3 linked regions of the Homo sapiens genome follow. The protein of the gene in region 3 purifies or fractionates together with the protein of the main gene of each other region. This does not show direct contact. Each region holds a gene or a part of one and is shown on either strand. Other genes may lie near its edges.

Region 1 (3,659 bases), on a different chromosome or scaffold from region 3:
ATAAGAGAATTCTATGAACAATGGTATACCAGTAAGTTGGATAACCTATAAGAAATTGACAAATTCCTAGAAACACAACCTGTCAAGACTGGATCATGAGAAATACAAAAATCTGAACAGATCTATAACTAGTAAGGAGATTGAATCAATAATCCAAAAGCTCCTAACAAAGAAAAGCTGGCTTCACCGGGGAATTCTTCCAAACATTTAAAGAATTTGACACCAATCCTCCTCAAAATCTTCCAAAAAAATAAAAGGGAGGGAATTCCCAAATTCCTTCTGAGGCCAGCATTACCCTAATACCAAAGCCAGACAAAGACAATATGAGAAAGCTGTAGATCAATATCCCTGATGAGTATCAATGCAGAAATCCTTAACAAAATATCAGCAATCTGAATTCAACAACACATTAAATAGATTATTCACCACGACCAAGCGAGATTTATTCCTGGGATGCAAGGATGGTTCAACACACGAAAATCAATGTACAGTTAATATCCCACATTAACAGAATGAAGGTCAAACAAGTGCATTACAGAGTGTCTCAAGAGCTGCCATGGCAAACAATAGGTAGAAGAACAGCCCAACCAACTCTTCTTCTCCCCACCCCAGATCTCAAGTTTCTTCAACTAGAGAACTCCAATTAAAGTAACTATTTTTGTCTATATTAGACTTTGATTTAAATTTCATCTTGAAGCAATGGGAACTACTGAAGGATATTAAGCAGGAGAGTGACACAATCAAATTTGTGTTTTACAAACATAACCAGCAACAGTGTTAGGAACTAGAAAGACAGGAACCAGAGAGGTAAGTTAGGAGGCTGTTGTTGTTTTCCAGATGTAGAGATAAAGAGGGTCTACACTGAAGCCAAATAGATGTAGAGAAGGGGTCATATTTTAGAAGCATTCAGGATTTAGCATCTGACTGAACATGGTGAAGTGAGGAACTGATTATGATTTTGAATTACTGACTAGCTTGGATAACTGGGTGGATGGCAATGCCATTAAACAAGATAAGAAAACAGTAAAAATGGTTTTCTAGAGGATGGATAAAGGGTTGGTTTTAGATGTGCTACACCAATGTGACAGTGTTCTTGCCAATAAATATCATATGTATTTCAATGAATAAGAGTTCAATAAAATTAACAGTAAGATATGTAGCAATTGTTGCCAAAAGATAACAGATACGCACTAAACTGAGAGTATCACAGTGATGTATACTTGTGATGTATACATGGGGGGTATATCTTGTGATGGTATCACAAGATGCCAGGCTCCTGATCCCAAATAAGACCTCACATAAGTCACTGTGTAAGGAGAGACTTGGTCACCTACCCATGATTTATTTTCATAAAACTATAAGAAATGATAGAACTGTAATGTGACCAGTTCCCCACCAGACTACTTAAGGGTATATGTCTGCTGCTTAAACTTCAAAGGCCAGCTGGCAAGCCAAAGCCATCATGCCTAGCAGAGGAGCAGGTCCTGAGAACCCAAACATTGCAGGGCATAGCTGGGAACATACCAAGGAAAACAGTGTCATTGCATATACGCAGTAGGCAAAGAGCCAAAAAATTAGCTTACTAGCAACTTAAATATGGGAGGTGGGGTGGATTTCTAGAGCTGTCCTGATGCTGCCCAGGAGTGTCTTGTCTGTAAGTCCTAATAAACTCATCTACTTGCCAAGATAGACCTGTCCGAGTCATTCTTTGGTCTCTCCGCTCCCTCCTAGTTTAATCCTGGGTTTTTCTCATAACAGGACAGAGTGCCATATTTTGCCAGAGGTCAGATCTCAAGCACCAACAACACAGGGAAGCAATGAAGAAACCTCAAAATGCTTGTAAGTGGCAAATATTAGTCATAAAGCCCAATTATTTATCTTTATAAGCTGGGCAGAGCCACTCAGATCCTCACCAAAATGGCTATATGAAACAAGGCAGCCTACCAAACACATCACCAAAATAAGGAATCCTGAGTAACAGCAAAAGGAACCATGATTAAAGCCAGATGCCTGAAACTATTTAGTATAGATACTTAGATACATTATGGCATAGTGTAGTAACTAAAGTTCAAAAGAATAGCCATGAGTTTAATAATGTTTAGTATATGCTAATTCCTAAGGCAAATTTAGAAAGTTTTCATTAATATGATTTTTTTTAAAAAAAAGCTTTAAGGCTAACTGAATATAGACAAGTATTACTCATCTAAAAAGTTTAGTGTATTAATCTCTTCCTGGCAACACTGAATGAAGCGTGGACTATTACACATCACTGTTGTCAGGATAACATTAAAAGTCACACTAATCCAAACAAGTAAAAGAGCCTTACCTTTCCCAGGTTTATATTTAAGATTGAAAGGCTGATTCTGCCAGATGTAGGGGACCAGCATAGGTGCAAACCGAGTGATTATTCTCTCAATGTACTTCTGAAGAATCTCTTTATGTTTATCTGAGTCCCTTGACTCATCTGGTATCAGGAACAGGCAGTACTCCACTGTGTCTTCCATCGTAGCAAGCTTCATGGTTTCTTCCATTCTTCTTTGAAAACTATGTTTAAAGTTCCAAAATATAAACCACATAGAACAATGCAGAAGTAACATCTGAACTCTTTTAGATGGTTCTATGAACACTGTTTTCTAAAATTTAGTTAGGCCGGGCACAGTGGTTCATGCATGTAATCCTATCACTTTGGGAGGCCGAGACAGGCAGATCACTGGAGGTCAGGAGTTTGAGACCAGCCTGGCCAACATGGTGAAACCCCGTCTCTACTAAAAATACAAAATACTAAAAATACAAAAATTAGCTGGGTGTGGTGGCATGCACCTGTGATCCTAGCTACTTGGGAGGCTAAAGCAGGAGAATCACTTGAACCTAGGAGGCAGAGGTTGCAATGAGCCGAGATCATGCCACTGCACTCCAGCTTGGGTGACAGAGCAAGACTCCAACTAAAAAAAAAAATAAATAAAAATAAAAAATAAAAAAATAAAATTTAGTCACATACCATCACCATGGTTTTGGCCTTAACCATACACCACCTACAGTAATATTTATTTAATTTTTTTAAACTTTATTTATTTATTTGAGATGGAGTTTCACTCTTGTTGCCCAGGCTGGAGTGCAGCGGCATGATCACAGCTCATTGCAACCTCCACCTCTTGGGCTCAAGCCATCCTCCCACCTCAGCCTCCCAAGTAGCTGGGACCACAGGTGCATGCCACCATGCCCAGCTAACTTTTTTTGTATTTTTAGTAGAGGCAAGGTTTTGCCATATTGCCCAGGCTGGCCTAGAACTTCTGAGCTCAAGCAGTTCTTCCACCTTGGTCTCCCAAAGTGCTGGGGTTATAGGCATCTGGCCTAATATTATTTTTAATGACCCTTTACACTTAAAACTTTATCTTTAAAATTACGTTAAAAGGAAACCTTGATATAATACAGTGAATAGAAATCTAGTATCACATTCCCCAATTAGTAAGTATGTAAGAATAAAATCTTTACTTTTTATATTTTTCCTATTTTGGAAGTGAAGAATGAAATTTTTAATGTTTGCCCTTGTACTAGCAGTGGTATGTGTAATATATTTCGAGAAACACTGCACTAACACCTACTGTTTACATACTATCAAAAACCCCAGTTCTGCCACTAATTAGTTGTGCCACTATGGA
Region 2 (2,478 bases), on a different chromosome or scaffold from region 3:
TCTTCTAAGGGGATGAACATCTCAAGGTCATAGGCCCTGAGAGGCTCTACAGACCTGAGCTCATCGCCCACCTTCCACAGGTTCCTCTCCTCTTCCATTCCACCCTTACTTCTCATGTAAAGCCAGCCCTAATTTTTAAGGAGGAGACAATGAGAACTGTTTCCAACTCTTCAGCAATACTGCTTTGATAAAAGAAATCCTTAAAAAAAAGAAAAAAGAAAAAAAGAAAAAAAAAAGAATAAGAAAAACACCTTCTCCAGAGAAGATGCAGGTTTCTTTTGGGGGGGTCAGGGGGAGAAGCCCAAGTGGCCCGTATCAAGACACTTTGACTATCCTGATCTCAAAGCTGGGGGCTTCCCTGTGCTAGGAGACAGGACATCAGAAGCTGACCACTAAATAGCAATTTCTGACATGCAAGACCACAGAGGAACAATTATAGACACCCACTGGAGACAACCCCCTCTGCTCTGGACTCTTCTGCCTGAGGGAGAGGCAAACGACCCCACATTGTTTGAATGAACCAAGTATGGAAAATGCTGCCCCACAGCTCTGATTTTGGCAATGCAAGGTGCTGCTGCTCACTGGCTCCTAACCTCCTGGGACTGCCACCTGCTCCCAGGTGGGGAAACCTCCTTCCCACCTGAGGCAGGCAGGCAACAGGGCATGGCAGCAGTGATGGCAGCCAAGAGCAAGAGAGCAGAGTTCCCCCGAGCCTCAAACCGTTCCCAGATAAGATCGCAAATGACACATTTTGAAAGCGAGTTAGCTTTCTTCCCTCCAAAACCCCAAATATGAAAAATGGCCATCAGAGGATGCAGGGAGTCACAAATCTGGAAGATTCATCAACAGATCATACCCCGCTTATCAATTCTTAGGCAGCCCCCAAAGTGCCAATTTGAAATAATTTAAAAAGCAAAGCAACTTGTGACATAAAAGGAGCATTAACTCTAAACAAAAGTAGAAAGAATCAGATGTAGAAAAAGGAATTAGTTTTGCAACATACACATAACCAATCACGTCAGCGAAGGGTTGTTTGTAGAAAGCTTCATCTGCCACCCTAGACAGCAAGAGGTCCAAAAGGCAGGCAAGCAGGCAGGAAAAAAGAGAGAACATTGAGAAGCAGAAACATCTAAAATCCACAATTGAGGTACAACTGTGCTCTGAGGAGCTGCTCCCAAGGCTCCTTCCTAACCCCCGTGAGGCTTCCAGCGCTGGAGACTTCAGCAGGCCTGGTTTCCCGCTGGCCTTCCCACGTGGGGACTGCTCCACGACAGAGCAAGCACTGCCAACTTCATCCCTTTGGCTCACCCCAGCAACACGGGCATTTATTAAGCACCCAATCATGGACTAAGCCCTTTCACATACATTATGTTGATTCAATCCTTAACTGTTAACAACCTATGACCCTGACTGTTCTCACCCCCACTGTACAGATGAGGTAACTGAGGCTTAGAGATGAACAACTTGCTCAGCTACACCACAGTGGCAGCATTCAGGACTCACAACCAAGGCAGCCTGGCCCTAAGTCCAGGGCTCTTTCTACTGTATAGTCATGCTTCTTCCCTGCTGTATGTGCCCAGAAAGCCACGCCACCTTCCTGTTTCAGTTAATGCACTGGGCAGGAATGCTGCCAGACACCAGATGCGCTAGGACCCAAAGCCAGTTTTATCTTGGATTATCTAACTACTGCTTCCCCACACTGTCTGGGTGGGATACACTTCCAGAATCCTGGGAACACATATCGTCATTTTAAAATCTCAACCTTACAGGAAAAAACGGCTGGAGGTGAGTGGTCTGGTGGGAAGAACACTGGACTAGGATCCTGGCCCTGGCTTCTGTTGTTCCTGAATATGGCTCTCTCTCTACTCAAGAAGCGGGTACAGTTTCTGAATATTTTTACACCAGACTCAATTGGCTTTGATAAGGTGCAGCCCAGAATCCAGAACTTCATCCCTTCTTAACTCTCAACATGGCAGGGCTCTCAGACAGGAAGGAGGGGGCAGACTGGGTGGATAAATTTTGACAGCAGGGGCCAGGCTGGCTTTGACTCTGTTGTCCTGGACTGACTCCCTGGGCTCTGCCAGCCCACTCTTCTCCACTGTGGCTGGACATGGAACCTCCCTCATGGAGTCTTACCCTGTCCTTTGTCAAGTCGATTTGGGGTGGGCAAGGGGAAAGACATTTTTCAAGGATAATCATGCCTGGTCATTAAGCTAACCTCACATACTTATTTGAAGGCAAATTCTAGTAATTTTAAGTTAATTTTTAAGCTCACACATGCCCTTCCTTCTTTCCCATTTTGTTTTATACACAGGAGGTGTTTTGTGGAAATTTAAAGAAAGCAAAAAGAGCAGGCTGATTATAACTTAAAGTGACTCAGCAGGAAAACAGAGTTGTTTGTGGGCAGAATGAGTGGGAGGAAAAGGCAAGGCAGGCTGGCTTATAAACCCATAACCCTTTTAGTTTACACAAAGGACT
Region 3 (3,659 bases):
AATCAAATTACTGCATGGGGTAATTATACAAAAGCAGAATATCTGCAAACTGTTCAAAGAAATACCACCTACACCATCAAACCTGCCCCTGACAGTTAAGCTGTTAACACAAATGTTCAACATTACATTTAAAATGTAACAGCAACTAGTTAGTAAACAGCCATATTCTAGTTGCACTGTACCATAATCAAGTTGGTCTGTATTTGGTTCTGACTTGCAAATGAGCTGCAATGAACCGGTCTTGGACCGAGAGCTTCGGGTGTTCTCTGTATCACGATGGCGAGAAACAGATGTCCTACTACTACGCCAGCCCCGGCTAGGTCTAGATGCAGCAATGGAAACTTCCTGAGGGAGGGCAGAATCGTCTTCTTCCTCTTTTTCTTCCTTGGGATCTAAATAAAAAGACATACCATTCTCTTTAAGTTTACAGTTAACCAATAACCATCCCTGTATATCTACTAATTGTAAATACAGTTGAAGATAAATTAAATATTTTCAAAGGAAAAAAAACTGAAGACTTTAATTGAAATAATAAAAAAAGGAAAATGAGATAAAACTTATCCTTAATGTCATCATGCTAAAGAAATTACTTCATGTTGCAAAGTAGTAATTTTATACTGCCTTATCTTCTAAAAAATGCAATGCTAACTATGCAAAATACACTTAAGTAACTGGATTCATGAAATTCTACCTTTTAGATCTAAGTTAAAAGAAACTAAATTAATTAGTCCCAAAAAGATGACCAGAACTACAGAGGCACCAAAAAGAAAGAACCATAGATCTAGATGTTATTTACAACCAAACAAGTCTATAACAAATTACTAAAGAGGAATTCCTAACAGGAGTACTTTTCACTCTAATCAAGAGTTTTTCTTGGAACCACACCATAAATTTGAACTAATCTATAGAGCAATTGAATGGTAAAGTCCAGCTCTGGTGCTATTCTGTTTCAGTTGTCCTATAAGACATTGTGTACAGGAGCACACACAAATCTGTTATTGTTATCCTATATTTTGTCATGTTTTAAGGGTGAAGTACGGTAGGTCATCCTCTCTTGAGTAGTAAGTAATAAAAAGTTAATCTCAGAAACTGGCTTTCATACCTGGCGTAGCTAAATACTTAGACCTATATAAAAAAAAAGTACATTAGAATTGAGCCCATTTTAACAATAGAAGATTCTTTAATAAACTCAGAACGGGAAAGGCCCAATAATAAAACAAAATTTCAGGTCATAAGATACACATAAAAACAATTTTCCTCATGGCAAAAATCAACCATAAACAAAGTCTAATAACCCAATAGAAAAATAGGAACTAACAGGCCGGGCTCAGTGGCTCACACCTGTAATCCCAGCACTTTGAGTGGCCAAGGCGGGCAGATCAAAAGGTCAGGCGTTTGTGACCAGCCTGGCCAACGTGGTGAAACCCCGTCTCTACCAAAAATACAAAAGGTAGCCAGGCGTCGTGGTGCCTAACTGCAATCCCAGCTACTGGGGAGGCTGAGGCAGGAGAATCACTTGAACCCGGGAGGTGGAGGTTGCAGTGAGCTGAGACTGCGCCACTGCACTCCAGCCTCGGCGAAAGAGCAAGACTCCATTCCAAAAAAAGAAAAAACAAAAAACAAAAGCTCAAAGCTCAATCCACTCAGAACAAGAGACTCAAATGAAAACGATAGCATGACACCATTTTTCATGTATCATATTGGGGATGATCATATTTGACAACATAATGTATTGTCAAGACTGTGGGAAAACAGGTCCTCTAACACACATATGATAATGTATTAGCAAAACCTCCATGCAGACCAATTTGACAATATACATCAAAATTATAAATGTATATACCTTTCCACATGATGTTCAACTACTAGAAATTTATCCTACAAAATTACAATCATATTTATAAATGATTAACATATAGCACTGTTTTTAAGTAGTAGAAGAGTAGAAAACAACATTCAAAGAGGGATTGGTTTCACAAATAATTGTGTACATATGTAAGAGAGAGATATATATGTAAGATATATATACACACAAATATATAACTTATGAAACCAATCCCCCTTTGAATGTTTAGTTGTCTACTCTTCTACTACTTAAAAACAGTGCTACACATTAGTCATTACAGTATGTGTGTGTGTGTGTATATATATATATCTTACATACTATAATAACATTTCTGGAAGAAGTACAAGAAATTCTTAAGTACTGGTTACTTCCAAGGTAGGTCCAAAAATATGTGTAGTAATTTCACCTTTAAGTATATGCCCTAGAAATATAAACTACCACATGGAGGTTAACTGTATTATGTTTATAATAGCAAAGAACAGAAACAACCTAACCCTCTGTCAAAGATAAAGTGCTTAAATAAACCATGATACCTTAGTATGATTGAATACTATATAGAGGTAGGTTTATGTTAAAAATGACATGGAATTATCAGCAAAAATATTGTTAAATGTATAAAAAAGACACAAAACTATATATACAGTATGGCAACATTTTTGCTTAACATTAAAAAATAGTTTACTATGGAGCAATGTGGTGACTATAGGCTATTTTAGCTTTAATTACACTGAAAGTTTTATGACAATATACTGAAGTAATGAAATTAGTTTGAAACACAGAGATAAATAGCAGTGCGAACAGTTCTAAACAACCATCAAAATCAGTTGTGCATTTCCTTTCAGCTGTCTTTTTCCATTCATTATTGCATCACCCTCCTATCTGAGCTATTTTAATAGAAAAAATAAAAAATAAAACATTAATATAGGTGAAAATACCTCAAAGGCCATTCAGTCTAAGCACAATCCATTACGTTTTACCCATAAAGTATCTGGAAGCCCAAAAAAGAAGCTTATTCAAAATCACAAGGTTAGCTAAGGACACCTAGATTTAGAAATCATATTTTGAGATTAATAATGAAGGACTTTTACATATAGGTCATGACTACTTTTAAAACAATTTCATCAAAAAGAACAATTCAACACCACCTATGAAGTATTACAACATTTAATAATAGACACATCTTTTTTTTCCTTAACCCAACTGTACCGAGTTGGACTTTGAACTCACTCCATAACCTCCTGTCCTCAACAAAGCTCCTTTCTTCTTCATGATGAAAGGATGGTATGCCCACAACCTCCTATACTGTAGATTTTACTCACTGGATAAATGATGCCAATTTGATAACAATAGTTTACCATTATGAATAAGGCATAATAGCCTATCTTATTGAATACTACTGCTCCCGTCCCCTAAAAATCTAGTCTTAAAAAAAAACCACTCTGTCAGAGATGACAGCAAAAATGTCCCTCCACAGAAATAAACACATATCATGAACAAACACTGTCAGAATCAACTTTGTGGAAACTCTTAACAATAGTTAAAGGTTATAAAAGCCAAGTGAGCACTGAATCAAGAAAAAGGTGAGTAAAGATGTTTAAGGAAATCTGTCAAATCACTTGATGAATATAAGCGAAAGGACCAGAACCTTTAGAGACCACAGAGACCAAAGTAGGAGCTAAACATTAGGTACTCATGGACATAAAGATGGCAACAACAGAAACTGGAGATTATTGGGGGGAGGTTGAAAAACTATTGGGTACTATGCTCAGTACCTGCATGATGGGATCATTTGTATCCTAAATTTCATATCATA

What was found.
Region 1: the proteins of ZFP91 (region 3) and ECD purify together in Homo sapiens (affinity purification with western blotting; one study listed by BioGRID). This does not show direct contact.
Region 2: the proteins of ZFP91 (region 3) and CLTA purify together in Homo sapiens (co-immunoprecipitation; one large-scale study listed by IntAct). This does not show direct contact.

Annotation. Positions count from the first base shown.
Region 1 is NC_000010.11:73,161,407-73,165,065, forward strand, and holds part of ECD (protein ecdysoneless homolog), read right to left. Parts: intron 2,545-3,659; 5' UTR 2,532-2,544; coding exon 2,327-2,531; intron 1-2,326. UniProt on the Homo sapiens protein: Regulator of p53/TP53 stability and function. Inhibits MDM2-mediated degradation of p53/TP53 possibly by cooperating in part with TXNIP. May be involved transcriptional regulation. In vitro has intrinsic transactivation activity enhanced by EP300.
Region 2 is NC_000009.12:36,207,846-36,210,323, reverse strand, and holds part of CLTA (clathrin light chain A), read right to left. Parts: exon of another isoform or gene 1,770-2,478; intron 1,058-1,769; coding exon of another isoform or gene 1,004-1,057; intron 1-1,003. UniProt on the Homo sapiens protein: Clathrin is the major protein of the polyhedral coat of coated pits and vesicles.
Region 3 is NC_000011.10:58,606,563-58,610,221, reverse strand, and holds part of ZFP91 (E3 ubiquitin-protein ligase ZFP91), read right to left. Parts: intron 393-3,659; coding exon 183-392; intron 1-182. UniProt on the Homo sapiens protein: Atypical E3 ubiquitin-protein ligase that mediates 'Lys-63'-linked ubiquitination of MAP3K14/NIK, leading to stabilize and activate MAP3K14/NIK. It thereby acts as an activator of the non-canonical NF-kappa-B2/NFKB2 pathway.